Homo sapiens: one gene and its partners. The protein of the gene in region 1 purifies or fractionates together with the protein of each later gene. This does not show direct contact. Each region holds a gene or a part of one and is shown in the gene's direction. Other genes may lie near its edges.

The links. The genes of interacting proteins can lie anywhere in the genome.
Region 2: the proteins of TTBK1 (region 1) and ACSF3 purify together in Homo sapiens (affinity purification with mass spectrometry; one large-scale study listed by BioGRID and IntAct). This does not show direct contact.
Region 3: the proteins of TTBK1 (region 1) and HEATR1 purify together in Homo sapiens (affinity purification with mass spectrometry; one large-scale study listed by BioGRID and IntAct). This does not show direct contact.
Region 4: the proteins of TTBK1 (region 1) and KDM3A purify together in Homo sapiens (affinity purification with mass spectrometry; one large-scale study listed by BioGRID and IntAct). This does not show direct contact.

The regions. Positions count from the first base shown.
Region 1 is NC_000006.12:43,280,722-43,286,130, forward strand, and holds part of TTBK1 (tau-tubulin kinase 1), read left to right. Parts: intron 1-2,005; coding exon 2,006-3,591; intron 3,592-4,258; coding exon of another isoform or gene 4,259-4,261; coding exon 4,262-4,655; 3' UTR 4,656-5,409. UniProt on the Homo sapiens protein: Serine/threonine kinase which is able to phosphorylate TAU on serine, threonine and tyrosine residues. Induces aggregation of TAU.
Region 2 is NC_000016.10:89,100,352-89,104,333, forward strand, and holds part of ACSF3 (malonate--CoA ligase ACSF3, mitochondrial isoform 1 precursor), read left to right. Parts: intron 1-310; 5' UTR 311-330; coding exon 331-996; intron 997-2,252; coding exon 2,253-2,408; intron 2,409-3,982. UniProt on the Homo sapiens protein: Catalyzes the initial reaction in intramitochondrial fatty acid synthesis, by activating malonate and methylmalonate, but not acetate, into their respective CoA thioester. May have some preference toward very-long-chain substrates.
Region 3 is NC_000001.11:236,583,535-236,587,516, reverse strand, and holds part of HEATR1 (HEAT repeat-containing protein 1), read left to right. Parts: intron 1-26; coding exon 27-115; intron 116-1,064; coding exon 1,065-1,276; intron 1,277-1,575; coding exon 1,576-1,697; intron 1,698-2,300; coding exon 2,301-2,492; intron 2,493-3,982. UniProt on the Homo sapiens protein: Ribosome biogenesis factor; required for recruitment of Myc to nucleoli. Involved in nucleolar processing of pre-18S ribosomal RNA. Required for optimal pre-ribosomal RNA transcription by RNA polymerase I.
Region 4 is NC_000002.12:86,479,371-86,483,352, forward strand, and holds part of KDM3A (lysine-specific demethylase 3A), read left to right. Parts: intron 1-796; coding exon 797-992; intron 993-2,559; coding exon 2,560-2,732; intron 2,733-3,087; coding exon 3,088-3,324; intron 3,325-3,982. UniProt on the Homo sapiens protein: Histone demethylase that specifically demethylates 'Lys-9' of histone H3, thereby playing a central role in histone code.

The DNA.
Region 1 (5,409 bases):
TGTGGAAAACAAGTAGAAAAGGGAGAATAAGTAAATCTGCTTGGTGGGTGGACAGGAAAGTTGACAGGAAGGCTTTGTCTCCTCTTTGCTAAGACCAGGAGCTGTTTGAGCTGGTCTTGAAGGAAGGGTAGCAAGTTATCATGTGCAGAGAGGAGGTGAGAGGAGCCCCCAGGTGGAGGAAACTGCCTGGGCTAAGTGTGAGCTGGAAGATGCACTTAGGAACTTCTGGAAGCATCGGAATGCGTGGAGTGTAGGCAGGGGCAGGGGACGGAGGGTGTTGCAATAAGTGAGACCAGAGCAGCCAGTAGTAGCCAGGTCACAGGGCTGGGTGGGGGATTCATGGGCCAAGTCAAAGATCTGAACTGTCTTAGGCCAGGCGTGGTGGCTCACGCCTGTAATCCCAGCACTCTGGGAGGCCGAAGCGGGTGGATCACCTGAGGTCAGGAGTTTGAGACCAGCCTGGCCAACACGGCGAAACCCCGTCTCTACTAAGAATAAAAAAAAATTAGCCGGGCGTGGTGGCGGGCACCTGTAATCCCAGCTACTAGGGAGGCTGAGATGGGAGAATCACTTGAACCCGGGAGGCAGAGGTTGCAGTGAGCCGAGATCGTGCCACTGCACTCCAGCCTGGGCGACAGAGCAGGGCTCCATATCAAAAAAAAAAAAAAAAAAGATCTGAACTGTCTCCTAAGGACTGTGGCAGCCATAGCAGATTTGAAGCAGAGAGAGATGGAATCAGATTAAGTTTCAGGAAGATCACTCAGGCAGATGTAAAAAGGATGGACGGCAGTGCAGAATGGAGAGAACAGGCCGGTGGCTGGGGAACCACCAGGAAAGGCAAGGCTGTGCTCGTGGGCCTGGGGTAGCAGACACAGAGAAGTTTAAGAAGGATGCTTGGCAGGACTCCTTGGCAGCGTAGATGGGCAGGAAAGTGGGGAGGCAGGATATCCCCGGGGCTTCTGGTCTGGATGGGCTGTGTTCGGCTAGCTTAGGAAGACAGAAGCCCAGCGTGTTCGAAAATGCTAGCAAAGTGCTGGACATCGTCAGCACCGTCCCACCATGGAACAAAGCTGTGTCAGCCCTGATGCGCCCAGGGCATTGCGGGTGCCTGGGGATGTCTGTGTATTGAACAGGGTGGAGCTAGAGTGAAGGAGACACAGCAGCCAAGGTCCTGACCAGGTGGTCAGACCTTTCTAGTCTGGAAGGAAGGAGGCTAAGGGGGACATGGCAAGAGTCTAGAAAACCAAGGACTGCTTTGTCCATCACATTGCCAAGGGCTCTGCACAAAACTTTGAAGAGGAAAATGGAATGGAGCTCAAGTATACCTGTCGAGGGCTGGACAAATTCCTGGCTGAGAGGATGGATTGGAGGTCGAGGGGCCCAGCCTGCACTTTTAAGGGTAGAGGACAGCCCCGCCTTTGCCCTTGTCCAGCACAGGATCTGGTGGCCCTGGGCAGCCAGCTCTCTGGCCACAGAGAAACTGCACACCCTGAGGTGGTACTGAGGGCATCTAGGAGCCAGCCCGGCACAGCCCATCCAGGAAGTGGCACAGATACTTGCCGCCGTCTCTGGACCTGGCTTTCTCATCTGTAAAAGGAAGGGCTGATCTGCGTGGTGGTCGTGGTTCCTTCCAGTTTTCATTTTCTGTTATTGTTGCTGACTCGGGTGCAGGATGCACATGGCGATGAGAGGGGCTGGGGACATAGAGAGGCTGGGAGGCAGAAAGGCCACCAGGATCAGGGCCTGGGACTTCAGGGGACCTAGAGCATGGACAGTCATTCATCAGAGGTTTCCTGAGCACTCACTAGGCGCCAGAGACCATTCTAGGCCCTGGGGACAGAGCAGTGAACAAGACAGACCCAGTGCCTGTGCTTAACTTTATGGAGCTCACACTCTGGTAGACGACCTGGGCCTGTGAGTCTCCTAGGTTGTGGGTGCAGCTGAAGTCTTCCTGGGCCCAGGAGGGTGGGTGACCTCAGAGGGTCCCTGTGTATGCCCCTTGCAGGTGTTCTCCGTGGCGCCCCCATTTGAGGTGAATGGCCTCCCACGAGCTGTGCCTCTGAGTCTGCCCTACCAGGACTTCAAAAGAGACCTCTCCGATTACCGAGAACGGGCGCGGTTGCTCAACAGGGTCCGGAGGGTGGGCTTCTCGCACATGCTGCTCACCACCCCCCAGGTCCCACTGGCTCCTGTTCAGCCTCAGGCTAATGGGAAGGAGGAAGAGGAGGAGGAGGAGGAAGATGAGGAAGAGGAAGAAGAGGATGAGGAAGAAGAAGAGGAGGAAGAGGAAGAGGAGGAGGAAGAAGAGGAGGAGGAGGAAGAGGAGGAGGAGGCTGCAGCGGCAGTTGCCTTGGGGGAGGTGCTGGGGCCTCGTAGTGGCTCCAGCAGTGAGGGGAGTGAGAGGAGCACTGACCGGAGCCAGGAGGGTGCCCCGTCCACGCTGCTGGCAGACGATCAGAAGGAGTCCAGGGGCCGGGCCTCCATGGCCGATGGGGACCTGGAGCCTGAGGAGGGCTCCAAAACGCTGGTGCTTGTCTCTCCTGGCGACATGAAGAAGTCGCCCGTCACTGCCGAACTGGCCCCCGACCCCGACCTGGGCACCCTGGCTGCCCTCACTCCTCAGCATGAGCGGCCCCAGCCCACGGGCAGCCAGCTGGACGTATCTGAGCCAGGCACCCTGTCCTCTGTCCTCAAGTCTGAGCCCAAGCCCCCGGGGCCTGGGGCAGGGCTGGGGGCCGGGACAGTGACCACAGGGGTCGGGGGCGTGGCAGTCACCTCCTCACCCTTCACCAAAGTTGAGAGGACCTTTGTGCACATTGCGGAGAAAACCCACCTCAACGTCATGTCTTCCGGTGGACAAGCCTTGCGGTCTGAGGAGTTCAGCGCTGGGGGCGAGCTGGGTCTGGAGCTGGCCTCTGATGGGGGCGCTGTGGAGGAGGGGGCCCGAGCGCCCCTGGAGAACGGCCTCGCCCTGTCAGGGCTGAATGGGGCTGAGATAGAGGGCTCTGCCCTGTCTGGGGCCCCCCGGGAAACCCCCTCAGAGATGGCCACAAACTCACTGCCCAATGGCCCGGCCCTTGCAGACGGGCCAGCCCCGGTGTCCCCGCTGGAGCCAAGCCCTGAGAAAGTGGCCACCATCTCCCCCAGACGCCATGCTATGCCAGGCTCTCGCCCCAGGAGCCGTATCCCTGTCCTGCTCTCTGAGGAGGACACGGGCTCGGAGCCCTCAGGCTCACTGTCGGCCAAAGAGCGGTGGAGCAAGCGGGCTCGGCCGCAGCAGGACCTGGCGCGGCTGGTGATGGAGAAGAGGCAGGGCCGCCTGCTGTTGCGGCTGGCCTCAGGGGCCTCGTCCTCCTCCAGTGAGGAGCAGCGCCGTGCCTCTGAGACCCTCTCAGGCACGGGCTCTGAGGAGGACACGCCCGCCTCTGAGCCGGCAGCGGCCTTGCCCAGGAAGAGCGGGAGGGCAGCCGCCACCAGGAGCCGGATTCCCCGCCCCATTGGCCTCCGCATGCCCATGCCTGTTGCAGCCCAGCAGCCCGCCAGCAGATCCCATGGCGCGGCCCCAGCATTGGACACAGCCATCACCAGCAGGTGAGAAACCGCTGCCAGCCCCAGGGTGGGCAGAGGGTGGCCACAGGCCTCCACCAGGAGGGGCTTCTCCAGAACCAAGGTCAGGGGCTATGGAAGATCAGGAGGGACCCTCAGTGACACCTCCTGTCCAGCACCTCCCAACTGTGCTCTGCCTCACTCTGATTCGGGTTCCAGCCCTGTCACTGGGCTCAGTGAAGTGGCTTCAGTAAGCATGTGTGGAGGGGGTGCCGGAGAGGCCAGGCTTAGGAAAAGCTGATGGGGGCCAGTGGGTCCACACACAGCCTCTGGTATGCCATGGGGCATTGGAAGCCAAAGGATAAAGCCCAGTGCTTTGACTCCTTGGGAGAAAACATTATTTCATATTAATATAAACATAGGTATATTCTAGGTTAGAATGCAAAATCCATGAGAATTTTAAAGATGAAATGAGGACCCCAAAGAAAGCCAGCAGCAGGCTCTTCCAGCAGCAGCCTGGAAGCGTGTGGCCCCTCGAGGTCCTGCCCTGGAGGACAGAGAGCCAGGCCTCAGTTTACCCATCTGTGCCATGGTCTCAGTCTCAGCTCTGAGGATGCCGGACTCCAGTGCTCAGTGCCCAGGAGGATTCTGAAATATTTCTCCTTGTTTTGTTTCTTTGCCCTCTTCTTTTCTCCTGCCTTCTGCTCTCAAGCAGGCTCCAGCTGCAGACGCCCCCAGGGTCGGCCACTGCTGCTGACCTCCGCCCCAAACAACCTCCTGGCCGCGGCCTGGGCCCAGGGCGAGCCCAAGCCGGAGCCAGGCCCCCAGCGCCGCGCAGCCCGCGCCTCCCCGCGTCCACATCCGCCGCGCGCAATGCCAGCGCGTCCCCCCGGAGCCAGTCCCTGTCCCGCAGAGAGAGCCCCTCCCCCTCGCACCAGGCCCGGCCCGGGGTCCCCCCGCCCCGGGGCGTCCCGCCGGCCCGGGCCCAGCCTGATGGCACCCCCTCCCCCGGGGGCTCCAAGAAAGGACCCAGAGGGAAACTCCAGGCTCAGCGCGCAACAACCAAAGGCCGGGCAGGAGGCGCGGAGGGCCGGGCTGGGGCCAGATAATGACGCCCGCTGCTCTCCGCGGTCCCCCACCCTCACCCCGGCCCCCCACCCGCAGCCGGCCACACTGGAGCAGCTCCCAGCACAGCCTTACGCGCCCGACGCGCGCCACCCGCGGCCCCAGCTTTCCGCCTGCACCCGCGAGGACGCGCGCGAGCACACGCGGCGCCCCGCCAGGCCTTAGGGCCCGTGGGGGACGCGGCCCCGCGCCGCGGGGAGGGTCTGCCTCCCCTTCCTCGCCCTGTGTCCTCTCATCCTCCCGCCGCCCGTCAGGCCGGCCAGCCTCACATCAGTCTCTCCGCCCCGGGGAAGGCTCAGCCACTTTTCATCGAGGACTCCACTTCTGGGGACGCCTGGTTCGTTCGCCCACCAGGCCTAGGCTACGCTCCATGCTCCCCCAGCAATCTCTGCCTACACCTCCTGCGGCGCCTTGCCCTCCTCCGACCCCTTTCCAGCCAAAGTCCCCCCACCCCTTCAGAGAAGCAGCCTCAAATTCCAGAAGTGGAGGCTCCAGCCTCCCCGCGAGGGTCCAGCCCCACAGTCTTCTGGGAGCCATTGTGGCCAGGGACGGCCTCTGGACTGCCAGGCTGGGTTGGGGACCCAGGGAACATCGGTCTACTCAGGTGTGAGGGGGCAGGTCTGACCTGCCCCAAAGTTGGCTCCATCCTGGACAACTCGGTGAGAGGCAGTGGGCAAGTGATCTTGGAGATGGGTGGGCAGGTGATTCTGTGGGCAGGGGATGTGCTCCCCTGCACCT
Region 2 (3,982 bases), on another chromosome or scaffold:
TTAAGTGTGTTGAATTTTATATGCTTCTCCTTGGTTTTACCTAGTTTATTTCATTGTTTAGAATTTTGTGTGGTTTGGGAATCCTTAAACTCATGAAGTGAAATAGAAAGCTGAGATGCTGGGCACGTACGGAACGTTCCAGCAGTGTGGGTGAGAAAGGCTGGACGTGGCCTGTCTGGTGCGCTGCCTCATGACTGAAGGTGCAGCAGGCGTACCTGGCTGGGTACTGGGGAGGTGTTTTAAATCCTGTCTTGGCCACGTTTGGATGGGACAGTTGGGCACTCACGTCCTGTGCCTTGCCTTTCTCCAGCTCGGCCGCCTGTCAGTGCAATGCTGCCCCATGTGGTGCTCACCTTCCGGCGCCTGGGCTGCGCCTTGGCGTCCTGCCGGCTGGCGCCTGCGAGACACAGAGGAAGTGGTCTTCTGCACACAGCCCCAGTGGCCCGCTCGGACAGGAGCGCCCCGGTGTTCACCCGTGCCCTGGCCTTTGGGGACAGAATCGCCCTGGTTGACCAGCACGGCCGCCACACGTACAGGGAGCTTTATTCCCGCAGCCTTCGCCTGTCCCAGGAGATCTGCAGGCTCTGCGGGTGTGTCGGCGGGGACCTCCGGGAGGAGAGGGTCTCCTTCCTATGCGCTAACGATGCCTCCTACGTCGTGGCCCAGTGGGCGTCATGGATGAGTGGCGGTGTGGCAGTCCCCCTCTACAGGAAGCATCCCGCGGCCCAGCTGGAGTATGTCATCTGCGACTCCCAGAGCTCTGTGGTCCTTGCCAGCCAGGAGTACCTGGAGCTCCTGAGCCCGGTGGTCAGGAAGCTGGGGGTCCCGCTGCTGCCGCTCACACCAGCCATCTACACTGGAGCAGTAGAGGAACCGGCAGAGGTCCCGGTCCCAGAGCAGGGATGGAGGAACAAGGGCGCCATGATCATCTACACCAGTGGGACCACGGGGAGGCCCAAGGGCGTGCTGAGCACGCACCAAAACATCAGGGCTGTGGTGAGTGCCGCCTGGCGCCGTGATGGTTTCGGTGACCGCACAGCACTCCGGGTGGGCTCCGGGCCAGAAGCACATCTTTTCATTCGCTTTTCTGTGGAGTCATTCACAGTTGTCACCATCCTGCAGACCCGTGTGAGATACAGGGACGCAGGCCCTCGGGGTGTGGCCGCTGGCCTCACTGGCCACGCAGGACGGCTCTGGGAGCGTCCAGGTGTAGAGGGATTGAGGGGCCGCCGAGTGACCCTGCCAGGACCATGCGGCATGAGGTCAGAAGGGACCACTCACTGCCTGTGATGCTGAGGGGCTTTTCGGAGGCCAGCCACGTGTTAGGATGCGTGGTCAGGACCCCACATACACCCGGGTCTTACTCGTTTTTTGTGTGTCCTGTGACCTCAGTCACATCTTCACAGAACTCTCCAACCACATCACTTACCTGGCATTTGTACAGTGTCATAACGTCTCCTATGCACTTGAAGCAATCAAGTAAAAATGAAAACCAAAAGCCAGGAAGGGGAAGGCAGGAAGTGTACCCCACGGAGTCGTGGGCTGACGAGGCGCCATGAGCACACAGCAGGCTGGGCCCTGGGTGGCCTGCGCCGTCACTCCTGGAAGCGGCGCGCCTGTCGGGAGGGACGGGCTCTGGACTCCTCTGTCCTTGCTGAGGGGAGTGACATGCACATGTGCTTCTCCCTGGAGCCTGTGCAGGCAGCAGGCAGTGTCCTCCGTGAGATTGGACAGAGGATTCAGTGGGCCGTGCCTCACGCTGCTTCTCAGTAAGAGCTGAGGGTGTGCTCTGGAGCCTGGCCTGGGTTCTGTCCCGGCTGAGCAGGTGACGATAATTCACGAATCGGCAGAGCTCTGTGTGGGCAGTGCTGTCACCTGAGCCAGTGGTTGGGCTGGGAGTCGATTCCAGCCTGAATGGCGCTGGGTCCCTGAGTCCCAGGCTTGGGCAGGGGCGGAGCTCTGTCGACCTGGTGTCTGCAGAGCCACTCCCCGACCTTCTAAATTCCCTAAAGCCTCTGGCTGTGTGTGGCGCTGTCCTCTGTCCCCAGGGTAAGTGAGTGACCCAGCAGATCTGCTGTGGTTTTGTCGTCATCTTGAGAGGCTGCTAAAGGGGAGCAACAAAGAGCCAGCCTTCTCCTTCCCCTTCCTCAGTGGGGAGGCCCAGAGCTCCTTTCCGTGAGCCCGAGGTCTGTGTGTGCTGTTGCGGGCCACAGTCTTGCTCTTGCTCTCAGCTGTGCTCTCGTCCCCTGCAGGTGACCGGGCTGGTCCACAAGTGGGCATGGACCAAAGACGACGTGATCCTCCACGTGCTCCCGCTGCACCACGTCCATGGTGTGGTCAACGCGCTGCTCTGTCCTCTCTGGGTGGGAGCCACCTGTGTGATGATGCCTGAGTTCAGCCCTCAGCAGGTGAGTTGGGGTCAGGGCTCTCGGTTGCACCCTCAGACTAGGCGCCTTTCCCCTGTCGGGGCCAGGGCTCTCAGCCGCGCCCTCAGCCTAAGCGCCTTTCGCTGGTTGGGGTCAGGGCTCTCGGCCGCGCCCTCAGACTAGGCATCTTTTCCTGGTGTGCAGTCGCCCCTATCCACAGGGGACGTGCCAATGCCGAGACCCTGGGTAGCATGGAACCCTGTACCTACGATGCTTTTTGCTATACATACGTACCTATGATAAAGCTTAATTTATAAGTTAGGCACAGTAAGAGGTTAACAATAACAGAACAGTTATAACCATGTACTGTAATCAAGTTATGTGAAAGTGCTCTCTCTCTTCAAAATACCTTCCGGTACTGTGCTCGTCTGTTGTGAGACTGCAGTGGGCCACGCGTCATTGAAACCGTGAATAGTGAGACTGGATGAGCGGAGGTGACTGTACAGGCCCTGCTGCCCGCGAGCTCCTGCGGCTGCGGCGAATGCTCACGCGCTTGGTTTAAAATAATGCGAGTTTGTTCTTACATGCTTGGAGGCCAGGATTCTGAGACGAGTCTTGCGGAGCTGATGCTGGGTGTGGTAGGGCTGCTCCGTCAGGAGGCTCCAGGGCAAAGTCCGTTCCTGCCTCTTGCAGCTCTGGAGGCCGCCTGTGCCCTTGGCTCCAGCTGCTTCACGTCCAGCTCTGCTTCTGCAGGCACACGGCCTTCTCTCCGTAGTCAGGGCTCCCTCGGCTTCCCTTTGTGCAGCCTATGCGGATATTCCAAGATCATCTCCCATCTTGAGGTCCTTCGCTTCATCCACCTGCAGTTCCCACCACTGCGAGAGGTGACACATTCGGGGTGTAGGGCGTAGGGCGTGACCCTTTGAGCTATGATGTGGCCACTGTGGCAGCCCTCGGTTACTCCAGAGTACTGGCCCAGCTGGAGAGCTGCTTGCTGCGGAGGGTTACTTTGGAGTATTGGCCCAGCTGAAGGGCTGCTGTGGAGTCTCTGTCTCCCCTCTCTGCATGGCTTCCTCTGTAGCGTCTCCCTTGGAGCAGGCAGGGAGGGAAGGACGCGGTGCTGGTCACACAGAGCGCTGGGGTGGGAGCAGTCATCGCCGAGCTGCTGCGCGCAGCCTTGCCTGTGCAGGGCTGTCTCCAGGCAGATCAGGGATGCTGCTTTGGAGGGAAAGGACCTGGGCTCGAGGCGGGACCCTGTGCACAGCATCGGGCCTCGCCTGTCAGTTGGGGATGGCGGTGGCTTTTAGGAGTTGCTGTGGCCCTGTGTGCATTCTAGCTGACTGCAGGCAAGAGTCACTCACCAGGCTGCAGAGGGCATGAGGGGCAGGCCTTGAGCCCACAGGAAGGACACGGTGTGCGTATGTCACAGGTGTGGTGAAGCAGAGCCCTCCGGTGAGGCCATGGACGTTTACCAGCCTCTGCCCGTATAATGAATATGCCTTTTATTCACAGGAAAAAAAGTTTAACACGTGAATGTATGGAAAAGCCCTTAGAATTTGGATCGTATCATGATGGTTCTCAGCACAGAGGAGCCCATCTCTGAGGCCAGATGCCTG
Region 3 (3,982 bases), on another chromosome or scaffold:
TACTCTGGATATTTTTTTCCCTTTAGATTTTCAAAGAACACTTCAGTTCAGAAGTGACGATTTCAAATCTTCTGAATCTCTTTCAAAGAGCAGAACTTTCAAAGAATGGAGAATGGTATGTATTCATTTCTCCTCATACTATTTTGAATTGATGAAGTTCTTATATCAAGTTCTTTCTATTTCTTCTTCTTTTTTTTTTTAAGGCTTTGATTACATGACCCTTTTGTCGTGGTAGTAGAACAGATCTTACTGTAATACTCTCTTTCATTATACAGTTAATTAATTTGTGTTTGTGTGTGTTCATTATACTGTTCTCTATGTTTGGAATTTCTCTTAATAAAATGCAAAAGGAAGTATATAATGTATGATATTGCATTCTGGGAAGTAAGATGGGTAGGACTTTCTAATTTGCTGCTTTATGTAATTTTTACTTTATAATTAAAAACAAATACCAATGTGTTAAACAAATTAAAAAATAAGTTCAGAGACACATGATACCATCTGTGGTAAGTTTTTAATGAGCTCTGTTTATTTCATTTTTGGCACCAAAGCTTTTTGCAAGAAAAAGTAAGCAAGCTCCATAGAGGATGAGAGTGTGTCTTACGTGTTTTTGTATCTATCGTATGGGTAGATATCTATCATGTAGGATGTGCTTGGTTCATTTTTTTTGAGTGCCTGAGTGAACCTGATTTCCGGTAGAGTTGAGACATCTAGTGTGATATGTCTTATGTTATAGTTAACCTCTAGTGATTTCTCTAAGAAAAATTATTATTTTTTTTTTAAGATTAGACAGGATGAGCAGATTAAAAGTATTGTTGGCCAGGCACAGTGGCTCATGCCTGTAATCCCAGCACTTGTACAAAAAATAAATAAATAAAAATATTGTCACAGATAACTCTGTTATTGGCATGGATTTTAAGTGGTGTCTTAGTGTATCTGAATAATAGTTTTGGTCAGGAGACCAGGATATTGTCAGTTAAGCTGGAGTAATGTAATGATGAATTTTTGCCCAATTGAAGCCTTCCAATGTGTCTTTCAACCAAGTGTGCTTGCATGTCTTTTAGGTACGAGGTACTTAAGATAGCCGCTGACATATTAATTAAAGAAGAGATACTGAGTGAAAATGATCAGTTGTCAAATCAGGTGGTTGTATGTTTGCTGCCATTTATGGTTATCAATAATGATGATACGGAATCTGCTGAGATGAAAATTGCTATATATTTATCAAAATCAGGAATCTGCTCCCTGCACCCTCTATTAAGAGGCTGGGAAGAAGGTAAAAAATTCAGTTGTTTTTTTAGAAAAAGTGAACAGATAACACAAAAGAAAACAAGGAAAATTTAAAATTTATTGTTGGTCATGCTTATATGCCAGTAAGGTCTTTTAAAATTTTTGCCAAGATAAAAAGTATACAGTGAAAAGGAAGCCAATTCATAGACAAATTCAGAATCGGATACAAGGAAAAATAGAAAGCAAACCTTCATAAACAATAGTAAAATGTTTGCCTGAATTCTTCATGTGATTCTTTGAGTGTTGGTGACATAAGAGCTCTCTGCATTCGATTTTACTTTACAGCTCTTGAAAATGTAATTAAAAGCACAAAGCCAGGAAAACTAATCGGTGTAGCAAATCAGAAGATGATTGAGTTGTTGGCTGATAATATAAATTTAGGAGATCCTTCTTCAATGTTAAAGATGGTAAGTATGCTTTGAAAGTCCACCCCCTGGATTTCTTTCTCATACTCTTATTAAATTCTCAGCTTTTGCTTTACTAGATTTTTCTTAAAAAAAATTTCTTTTATTCTTGAGTACTTGGTTTTACTTTAAACGTTGCAGTGTTGTTTAATATATTCTGTGCAATGTTTGAAATCTTTTAACATTTTATATATTTTTTCAATGTGGATCCATATCACACCCATAAGAATAATATATCCTTTTTACCACCATTTTTTCTCATTCCCATTTAAAATATTAGTCTTTTTGTTGTTGTTGTTGTTAAAATAGCAAAATATAATCCCAAAGAGGAGAAAATTATCTTTGCCTTATTAAATAAACCTTTGTAAAGGATTAGATGTGTGATTTAAATACATTAACCAGTTGGCAAGTGCAATTATGTTCATTACAGTTTCTGAAATTATTCTTATAATTACTTAGAAATCAGTGCTTAGTACTTTATAAAGGCTTTCTGTTTGTCATCTCACTTTAAATGTAAAACACATAATACCTAGATAGACCTGAGTTGAAAAAATTGTTTTATGAAAATCAAGAGCAACTGGTAATAGAGTGTGTTTATTTTTCAAGGTGGAGGATTTAATAAGCGTGGGTGAGGAGGAGTCCTTTAACCTGAAGCAGAAAGTAACGTTTCATGTGATCCTGTCTGTGCTCGTCTCTTGTTGTTCATCTTTAAAAGAAACCCACTTTCCATTTGCGATAAGAGTCTTCAGTTTGTTGCAGAAAAAAATAAAGAAGCTTGAAAGTGTCATTACTGCAGTGGTAAGGAAAGCAGAATCTCCAGAAAGTGGGATGTTGAATAAAACAACAGCCTGGCCTATTAGTCACAGCAAAACTGAAAATCAGAGGCGAGATGTTGAGTCTGTGGATAGTAGCTGGATGAAATGTGAAGCAGTCTTGGGTAGCAGTGAGATAGTCAACTAGGCACTCCCTTGCTTTTGCGGAAAGTTTAGTTGAATTATAAAATTTTAGGGTTGCAATATTTTGTATCTGATGCCTGACTCTCCTCTCTTTTATTGTCTTTATTGGATAATTACCCAAGCTACACCTAACTACCTCTAGCGATGAAGAATTCACTTGGTGTGTTAGTGCTTGAACAAAATACTATTTCATTCAATTGTTTACTAAAAATAGATCTTTTAGGCTTTAAATAATTTTAATATTACATAGATGTGTATCCCTCCAGCCTACTACTGTCTTTCATAGTATTACTAAAGGACATGTTTCAGCTGTTTACATTTGACATGTTTTGAGGTAGCAAGACTTTTTTTTTAATATCTGCTATATGTAAGGATTTTGTTTTTATTTGTCCTCCAAATTTTAGAGGGCTTCTCATTATAGGATTTACTAAATGAATTATATCTTTTTCACATTTACGTATACCCGCAGGATTTTATAAGTTCTGATCATGGCCATTGTTAGCTAAAATGTGTAAACTTTAAAAAGAGTAAAATCTTCATATTTTGAAAAATAGTCCAGATAGGCCCTTCTTAACTTTTAGTTTCTTGGTGTCTTTTGTGAAGTATGATGACCTGAACTATACTGGTTCTCAGTGTTAAAAGTATGGACAAATAGAGTGTTTTATTATACATATGTAGATAACAGGTTATTTTATATTGCTTTACTTTTAATACCTTTCTCGAGGTCATGAGCATGTTTTCGCCTGTAGCAGCACGTTGAGTTAATCAAATCCCTCACTGGAGACGTTACATTGTAAATCTGGCTTTGGATTATTTTCCTTCTAAGTTATTACTCTGTACTGCTTGTACAGAGTCATATTTGTCATTTTCTTACACCTGTTCTGCATTCTTTTGGCACTTACAGTATAATTTCTAAACACCTAACATTTTGCTGCTTGTTTAAAATCATCTGCAGGTTTGGAGATTTTTGCCATGTACCTTATTCAGATTAGTGGTAAAACAGTGAAATCAAAGAATTCCCTTTAACTATGTCTTGGCAATCCAACTGTTTATCTTCCTGTTTTGAAATATACCTATTTTGGCCAGGCACGGTAGCTCACGCCTATAATCCCAGCATTTTGGGAGGCCGAGGCGGGTGGATCATCTGAGGACAGGAGTTCGAGACCAACCTGGCCAAAATGGTGAAACCTAATCTCTACTAAAGATACAAAAATTAGCCAGGCATGATGGCGGGCACCTGTAATCCTTCCTACTCGGGAGGCTGAAGCAGTAGAATTGCTTGAACCTGGGAAGCGGAGGTTGCAGTGAGCTGAGATTGTGCCGCTGCACTCC
Region 4 (3,982 bases), on another chromosome or scaffold:
GAGCAGAAGACTTGTAATATTTGGAGTCAGAACTGAATTTGAGTTCTTTTCCTTCCACGTGCTAGTTGTGTTACTTTGGCTGAAGTGAGCTGGTTTCTATGTGCTTCAGCTTCCTCATCAGTAATATAGAAATAAGAAGCAATATTGATGATTGGGCATCACAGAATTACATCACATGTAAAGAGAGGGCCTGGACCACAACAGGGGTTTGAATATTTTTTTTCCTCCTTCTTATGTATGTATAAACTCACTCTTGCCAGTTTTTAAAATTATTTTCTTCTACAGCAGTCATCTTAGATTTAATTTATGGGTTCTTTTAAGAGCTCATCACATTTTTAAAGCTAAGTCAAAATAGCATTTTCTCTTTCTCTGCATCCCATTTCCTTCTGAAATCACCGCTTTACCTTTCCTGCCTGCGTCATTTATTCGTTTTTAACCATGTTTTCTGTGCCTATCCTGAATTCTGGGATGAGTTCATAGGGGAGACAGGCACAAACTGGTCATTTTAAACCAGCATGGTACATAGAGTAATAGGGATATGTACCAGCAGGGGCTGGTGAAAGGGTGCGGGGGGTAATACCTTGCTGTGTTTAAGTTGCTGACATCTCTCCTACCTTTTAGTTATTCTCTACTAGTGCGGGATTACTGCAGCTGTGGGGATACCCAGGGCTAACTATTAGGTGGTTTTGTTCTGGATATTTATCTTACTTGTTGGTCGGCTATTAGGAGAGAAGAAAAGAAAAGGAAGCTGTCATTCTTCAGCTTATGTAAAATCGTCCTTTAATGCTTAACACAGACTTCTTTAGCTGGAGAAAAACCGACTCTTGGTGCAGTGCTCCAGCAGAATCCCTCAGTGTTGGAGCCAGCAGCTGTGGGTGGGGAAGCAGCCTCCAAGCCAGCCGGCAGCATGAAGCCTGCCTGTCCAGCCAGCACATCTCCTCTAAACTGGCTGGCCGACCTAACCAGCGGGAATGTCAACAAGGAAAACAAGGGTGAGTGTTTCCTGCTTTTGTGTTTGTTCTTGAGTATTTTAGTCCATTCGTGGAAGGACTTGAGAGAACAGTGGTTAGAAGTCGTGTGGAATGGAAAGTGCTTCTCTGGAGTCATCCTGGAACCTGCCACAAATGAAAGTGTTTTTGAAATGCAGCACCAAAGAGGAGAAATTTTGCTGCATTAAAATTTAGGGACTTCCACCTTCTGGCTGTGTTACAGAAGAGAAGAATTGCAGGCCACTTCTTTCATGCAAAGATCTGGAGCAAAATTTTAATGAATCAAATTTGACACTGTAAATGAAGGAATATTTGAATGTTAGACTACATCTGAATTTCTGGAAAAACCTTTATATAGCTTTAAAAATGTGATAAGGAGCTCTTAAAAGAACTCATAAATTAAGTCTAAGATGACTGTTGTAGAAAAAAATAATTTGAAAAGCTGGCAAGAGCACAGCTGGTGAGTTTATACATACCTTAGAAAGAGGAAAAGGAATATTCAAACTCCTGTTGTGGTCCAGGCCCTCTCTTTACATGTGATGTAATTCTGTGATGCCCAATCATCAATACTGCTCATTATTTCTGTATTACTGATGAGGAAGCTGAAGCATATAGAAACCAGCTCATTTGAGCCGAAGTAAGACAATTAGCAAGTGGCCGGAAAAGAATTCAAGTTTTTCAAGGTTTTTCCAGAAATGAAGATACAGTCTGACATTCAAAAATGTAGAAGAATCATGGGACAAGATGCAGGAAAACATTAAGTAAAATTCAGTACCTGTTAATGATTTACAAAAAACTTCTTAAATTAAGAACATTCTTAATCAAGAGTTTAAACCAAAAAACAAGACTGGAGACATCATAAATAGTCGTTGAATTTTTTTAAAAATTTGTTTTGAGTTTTTTTGAGACGGAATCTTGCTCTGTCCAGCCAGGCTGGAGTGCAGTGGCATGATCTTGGCTCACTGCAACACTGCACTCTGCCTCCCAGGTTCAAGCCATTGTCCTGCCTCAGCCTCCTAAATAGCTAGGATTATAGACGCCTGCCACCACGCCCTGCTAACATTTGTATTTTTAGTAGAAGTGGGGTTTTGCCATGTTGGCCAAGCTGGTCTTTGAGGTTTTTGTTTGTTTGGTTTTGTTTTTTTTTTTTTAAACAGTTTCTGTGTTCAAGAACAAGACAAAGGATATCTGTTTTCACTCTTTATTAAGCATTGTACTGGAAGTCCTGGTCAGTGCATTCAGGGAAAAAAAATGTGTAAAGAGAATGCTGCCAATATTTGTAGACAGTACATGCAAAAAATCCAAAAGAATCTACATTTACTAAACATTTGTCAGGGTTGCTAGATACAAAGGTCAATTTACAAAATTCCATTGTACTGGATAGTTATTGTTTTTAACATCAGTGAGGAATCGTCTAAGTAAATCATATCATTCATACTTACTCCCTAAAGTATTTTTTTTGTTTCAGTAAATAGAAAGCAAGTTCTAAAGTAATTCTGCTAGTAGAATACTAATAAGGGATTTGCCTTTCAGAATGTTTTTTCATCTGGATGTTTTGGTTTTATTTTAGAAAAACAACCAACAATGCCAATTTTAAAGAATGAAATCAAATGCCTTCCACCCCTCCCACCTTTAAGCAAATCCAGCACAGTCCTCCATACGTTTAACAGCACAATTTTGACACCCGTAAGCAACAACAATTCTGGTTTCCTCCGGAATCTCTTGAATTCTTCTACAGGAAAGGTATGTGTTTGTTTGTTGGTATTCCATGTTTTAAAGTTGAAGACAGAACAGGAAGAGAGTAGAGAAGTTGGAACTGAAAGTAGAAAGGAGACTGAATCACATACTTACCTTTGTGGGTTCAGAAGGCTGAGTCACTGGAGGATGGGTTTTATGGGACTATAGTTCTGAGCTGGGCCACTTTCTCCTGTTACCTCACTTCTATGAGTTGTCAAGTGGGGACAGGGGACGTACCTTTTTGCCTGGGGGTCCTGGCTTGGAATCTTCTGGATATGTAATCTATACTCATTATGGGAATGGAGTTTCTTGATGGTAAGGGAATGACATATTTGAGACTTTTGTTCTTTCTCCAATTCAGACAGAAAATGGACTCAAGAATACACCAAAAATCCTTGATGACATCTTTGCCTCTTTGGTGCAAAATAAGACGACTTCTGATTTATCTAAGAGGCCTCAAGGACTAACCATCAAGCCCAGCATTCTGGGCTTTGACACTCCTCACTATTGGCTTTGTGATAATCGCTTGCTGTGCTTGCAAGACCCCAACAATAAGAGCAACTGGAATGTGTTTAGGGAGTGCTGGAAACAAGGGCAGGTAATGTAGGCCTCCCATCCTCCTGCCCTATTCAGAACCCCCTTCTCAGTTCCTTTAGCAGACTTCTGACAACCCCACCCCAGGCTTTCCCCCTCCTTCACCTCCTGTTTTATTCTTTATTGTTTCAGGTGAATATAATCAGGTCAGGATGTGGCCATGGGTCTTACTTTTTAAAGCAGATGGTCCTAAGCTGGACTTTTCCAGTCAGGTTTTTGTTGCTTCCTACCAGTCCCTGTTGGGTTTTTGACGAGGGCATCCAGGCTTGGTGATTCCTATGGTAAACTTCAGCAGAGGAAGTGAGGGTGTGACTACAGGCTGATGGGATTTGGGAGATCAGACAAAATGTGCTACAAAATCATGCACCCCTCTTACCTGAATGAAAAGCCTGTGCTGAAGGCAGTTCTAGGTGGGCTAGGGCCGCGTGGTGTCACATAGTCCCCAGGTGCCTGCTTCAAAGGGCAGTGTTGTTGGATCTTAAGTGCCGGTTAATATCTTTAGGAGAATTTCTAGGCCTGCTTCTGTGCTTTCTTGTTTTGGTTCTGTTTTCTGGATCTCTGGCTTCTCTGTTTGGCCAGATAGGGTCTTTGCTAAAGGAACACTCTGCTCTTGGACAAGAATTTGGGAGAATTGCCAAACAGAAAGATGTGAGTGTTTAACC